2 separate regions of the Homo sapiens genome follow, and region 1 is linked to region 2. Evidence: fine-mapped expression QTL. Tissue or cell type: whole blood. Region 2 holds a variant in brackets; the other region holds the start of a gene. All regions are shown on one strand. Distances are between the middles of the regions.

The links. PIP is the estimated chance that this variant, and not a neighbour inherited with it, causes the effect.
Region 1: TOR1AIP2 starts here. The variant in region 2 is fine-mapped to the expression of TOR1AIP2 in whole blood (TOPMed, PIP above 0.99).

What each region holds. Positions count from the first base shown.
Region 1 is chr1:179,876,502-179,879,266 of GRCh38, reverse strand. TOR1AIP2 (torsin 1A interacting protein 2) reads left to right here and starts at 1,464. Exons shown (of 7, transcript NM_001199260.2): 1 at 1,464-1,574; 2 at 1,894-2,028. RefSeq lists an enhancer at 1,130-1,489.
Region 2 is chr1:179,854,358-179,857,122 of GRCh38, reverse strand. All of the region lies in intron 3 of TOR1AIP2 (torsin 1A interacting protein 2), which reads left to right. Among named protein-coding and RNA genes, the nearest start is that of LINC02818, 19 kb to the right of the region's middle. The variant A/T (reference allele first, on the strand shown) is at 1,665.

The DNA.
Region 1 (2,765 bases), 22 kb before region 2:
ATGGATTTTGCCATGTTGGCAAGGCTGGTCTTGAACTCCTGACCTCAGGTGATCCATCCGCCTTGGCCTTCCAAAGTGCTGGGATTACAGGTGTGAGCCACCACGCCTGGCCAAAATAATTATTTTAAATGAAACATTTTAGAACAATAAATTTTTTGTACAGGAACTTTTTGCTTTAGGGTAAGCAGAAGTTCATTTATTTAAAGAGATAAATCTATCCGTTGTGACTTAGTAGTACAAATGAAGTAGGCAAACAATTTTAATAAGGAAAAGATGATTAAAATATTAAACAGGAGGAAGTTAATTAAAGACATAGTAGCTGGCTCCATTTATTCCCCAGTCTTACAAATGATAGAAAAATATTTTAATGACAATACAAATGAAAATTCCTGGAAATGTTATACTGAAATTAATTAAACACAATAAAGTGAATGGAATATAGTATTCTTTTTGTTGAATTAGGACTTGCAGTTAATTATTAAACACCATCCAAGAGTGTTACCAAATCCTGTCACTTCTGCCAAGAGAGGGTGATTGAGAAGTGAAGGCACCAAAAATCACATTAAATGAGGAATTATTAATTCAATAAATACTTGAGCTACTGTGTAGTAGGCAGTCCCTGTTCTCTGTGCTGGGGATACAGCAGTGAACAAAATAGACTAAAAGACAAAAAATGTTTCCTGCCTTCTTGGAGATTATATTCTATGGGAGGAGTCGGGCAAAAATCAAAATAAGTAAAATAGTGTGTTGGTCAGGACTGTTATGGGAAAAAAAAGAGGAAAGGGGAAGGGAGTTTTACATGAATAGATTTCTTCTTGAAATTTGGTTAGATTTGTCCTGAATTGCTGTAGGTCAAGAACAGGAATTTTAGACTTACTTCATTTTTCCCCCAACAAATTGTATGTTCTTGGGTAAATTGCTCGCCATCTCTTAATTTTCACATTTATAAAATTAGTAGATCAAAACAGCTATTTTTTGTCACTACTGTCATTTAACAGAAATGCTGCATACGTCATCTAATCTACTAATAACAAACTTATGAGGTAAGTAACGTTGTCCCCATTTGACACACGAGCAAACTGAGGTTTAGATTAGGCAACTCATTGGATTACATGCTCCTCTTAATGGCACAGAGGGTGTGTTCCAGGACATGGTGCTTGCCATTATCATTTGGTACTGCTGCTCACTGTGTTGGTCCTATGAGTTTCTTCAGTCTATGAATTTCAGGTCAGGGTGGTCGACGTCTTACAGAGATGCCTGTAATCCTGTCAGCATGAGATTGCATGGGACCTCTGCGGTTTGGTCGCGCATTTACCGCGCCTGTCGCTGGGTCAGACGACCTGGCAGTAGAGGGTGAAGGATGGAGAAGGCAGAAGGCAGGGCACGGAGACTACTAGTCCCAGGATTCCACGGGCGCCTTCCGGCGGAAAGTGTTTGTCATATGGGCGGGGACCCTGGACGACATTCGGGCCGCGGCGGCCGCTGGGTGCAGCCGAGCGGTGTGGAGCGGAGAGAATACTCGAAGGGCTCTCCTGATACTAACAGTTTTACGATTTAAAACTTCGCCAGAATTTGTAAGTAAACAAAATGACTATGCAGCTTTTCCATGTTTTAGTATTGAAACTGATATCTTGAATTTTTGAAAAGGACTTTCAGAAACGGTCCCTCCCCACCCCCACCTTCGTACCGCACAAATGGTATTTTTATTTTTATTGTTTTTGAGACAGGTACTTGCCCTGTCACCGAGGCTAGAGTACAGTGGCGTGATCATAGCTCACCACAGCCTCATACTTCTGGGCTCAAGGGATCCTCCCGCCTCAGCCTCCCAAGTAGCTGGAACTACAGGCCCGCACCACCATGCCCTACTAATTACTTTATTTTTTATTTTTATAGCGACAGGGTCTCACTGTATTGCCCAGGTTGGTCTCGAACTCCTGGCTTCAAGCGATTCTCCCACCTCAGCCTCCCAAAGTGCTGGGATTACAGGCGTGAGCCACCACGCCTGGCCTCACTCAAACAGTAAACGAGGTAGGTTGGGGGTATATTTTTGTTTTGGGATAAAAAGAAACTGAATCTTATAAATATTAAATGGGTTAAGATGTGAGTAAATTTTTGGGTTTAGACTTTAAGGTGAGAAGCCGAATTATTTTAGGGTTCGAAATGTGAGTGGGAAATTTGCCTACTAGTGTAGGCGGCGATTACTCCATTCCCAACATGCCTAGGTTCTCGACATTCATAATCTTAATCCTGAAAAGATAATACTTAAAAAAAAAAAAAATTGGTGCTAAAAAGGGCAAAGTTGAAGTTTTAGTAAGACCTCCTACCATTTTGCTTACATATTATATATGTACCATTCTCCCAATTGTATTTAATACCTGATGAAAAAGTTTGTGCCTTTTCCTTCTTTTAACAAATTTCATAGTACTCTCTACTTTATGAGTAATGCTTAATTATCAGACTTTATACTGTTACACAGATCCAGAAATGAGTTACATAGATTAAACATACTGGCTTTGTTTTACCTGTCTTTAGGTTTTAACACATTTTATTTTGGATCTGTATGAGAGATCCTTTCTTTGTTTTAAGCTGTGGCAGTTATCCATGTTTTTTGAGCTTTTTTTTTTGAGCACAAGATGAGGATATAAAAGGCCAGTGGAAACATTTAATAAAAAAAGGAACTTCATGGTAGAGTAACTACAGATGTTTTTGGAAGACTTTGTGTGGATTAGAATAGTTTGAAAAACTAACATTTGTTATGAAAACTG
Region 2 (2,765 bases):
CATCAGTTCCTTGTAGAAGATACTATCAAAAGCATCTATTTTGGGGCATGCTTATGGAGTGGTTTTCCCTACAGCTGTAGAAAGTCTCCAGCTACTGCATTTTCCTTCAGGATGAGGCTCTGCCTCACTTCCATTATGCAGTCCAGAGGTTCCTAATGAACACATACCCTGATAGGGATCAGACACTGTTCAAAAGATTGACCTGCTTGGCTGGGCGCAGTGGCTCATGCCTGTAATCCCCACCACTTTGTGAGGCTGAGGCGGGCAGATCACTTGAGGCCAGGAGTTTGAGACCAACCTGGGCAACATGGTGAGATGCTGTGTGTACTAAAAATACAAAAATTAGCTGGGCACGGTGGTGCGCAGCTGTAGTCCCAGCTATGAAGGCTGAGGCACGAGAATCGCTTGAACCTGGAAGTTGGAGGTTGCGGTGAGCCAAGATTACACCACTTCACTCCAGCCTATGCGAAGAGTGAGATTCTATCTTGGGGGGGAAAAAAAGATTGACCTGCCTCTGAAACAGTGGCCTCCAGATCTCTCAGATACCCTGCCATGTGACCTTTTCTGAGGATTTGTCAAGAACTTCCTTGTTTGTCCCACTTCTTGTACTGTAAGGGAAATGCCATTTCAACTATGAACAGTGATGATATGTTACAAAAGGTCTGAATGAAGTGGGGTGTAGGATCTGTGTGTGCTTTGTGACAGGAAAGGTGTATGTCAAGCATTTGTAAGATAATAGAAATATCTGTGATGGCACCTTTGCAGATTCTTTTGGACTGCAACCTAGTAACCAAGTAATACATTTTTGAAAACCTTCAGTTCTGTTTGTTTGCAATAAGGTTTATTGAGGATAATCTATGTCACATACAATTAATGTACAGATTTTAAGTTTGATAACAAATGGAACCACCACCTCAGTAAAGATATTAAACATTTTTTTTTCTTTTTTGAGACGGAGTTTTGCTCTGTCGCCCAGGCTGGAGTGAAGTGGTGTGATCTTGCCTCACTGCAACCTCTGCCTCCCAGGCTCAAGTGATCCTCCCACCTCAGCAGCTGGGACTACAGGTATGCACCACCACGCCTGGCTAGTTTTTGTATTTTTTTTTTGTAGAGATGAGGTTTCACCATGTTGTCCAGGCTGGTCTTAAACTCCTAAGCTCAACCGATCTGTCTGCCTTGGCCTCTGAAAGTGCTGGTATTACAGGTGTGAGCCACTGTGCCTGGTCAGCAGTACTTCACTGCTATAATTTTACAACTTTTAAAGATAACCTAATTTATTTTAATTGCTATGCATAATATTACATTGTAAGAATATGACAATTTTTTAAACCCACTTTCTTATTAATGAACATTTAGATTTTCTAATTTTTTCCTCATTTTAAACAATACAGCAATGGACATTTTGGGGCGTATTAATGAGATTCTCTATTATACGTCTAAAAATGGAGTTGCTGATTTGTAGAGTGTGTGCCTTAATTTTCCTTGCCATATTTCTCTCTAAAGTTGTAGTAACAGGTTTACTTCATTGCCATTAGGGGTTTAAGAGCTCTCTGTATCTCTAAATCCTCATCAACATTTGATATTGCCTGACTTTTTACCAGTCTGCTGGTGTGAAATGTTATCTCACCATTAATTTATTTTTTGTATTTCTTTGACTGTTTTTT[A/T]ATATTCATTAGGTTTTCATATTTCCTCTTTGTTGAACTGCTTATTCATCCCTTTACCCACTTTTCATAGCATTATTTGTCTTTTACTGATTTGTGGAATTCTTTATGTGTTCTCAATATTAATTCCTTACTGGTTTTATGTGTTGCAGATGTTTTTCTAGTCAGAGACTTACCTTTTAATTTTGATACCTTGTGTAGAAATTAAAATTTTTTAATAGGGTCACATTTGTCAAATTTTCCTTTCTGGTTTGTGTATTGTATATCTTATTTAAGAAACCCTTGCAGTTATAAAGATATTTGATATTCTCAAAGTTTAAAAGTTTTGCTGTTTACATTTAGGTCTTTAATCTGGAGTTGATTTTTATATGAATAGGAGACAGAAATCTAATTTTTCCCCCTATTTGAATAGTCAGTTGTCCCCACGCTATTTATTCACTAATTCATTATTTCCCTTTTGTGAATTGGCCAATTTCCTTATGTATGTATGCATATATTTCTTGACTCTCTATTCTGTATACTGTTTGTCTATTCGTGTGCTAGTGTTCCATTGCTTTTATTACTTTAAGTTTTTTGTTTGTTTGTTTGTTTTTGACAGAGTCTTGCTGTGTCACCCAGGCTGGAATACAGTGGTGCAATCTGGGCTCACTGCAACCTCTGCCTCCCGGGTTCAAACGATTCTCTTGCCTCAGCCTCCTGAGTAGCTGGGATTACAGGCATGCGCCACCATGCCCGGCTAATTTTTGTATTTTTAGTAGAGATGGGGTTTCAGCATGTTGGTCAGGCTGGTCTCGAACTCCTGACCCTTGGGTGATCTGCCCGCCTCAGCCTCCCAAAGTGCAGGGATTACAGGCATGAGCCACCGTGCCCACCCTATTTTTAAGTTTAAAGAAGTTTTGATATCTGGTAAAGATTGCCCCCCTTCTTTAGAATTATGCTGACTCTTCTTGATCCTTTGCTGCTCTTTGTGAATTTTAGGACCCACTTTTCCATTTCACTAGAAACCAACAATAATCAAAAAACTTGAGATTTTGTTTCAAATTGCATTAAATTTGTAGATTAATTTGGAGAAAATTGGCATCAATGGTTTTGAGTCTTATTTGT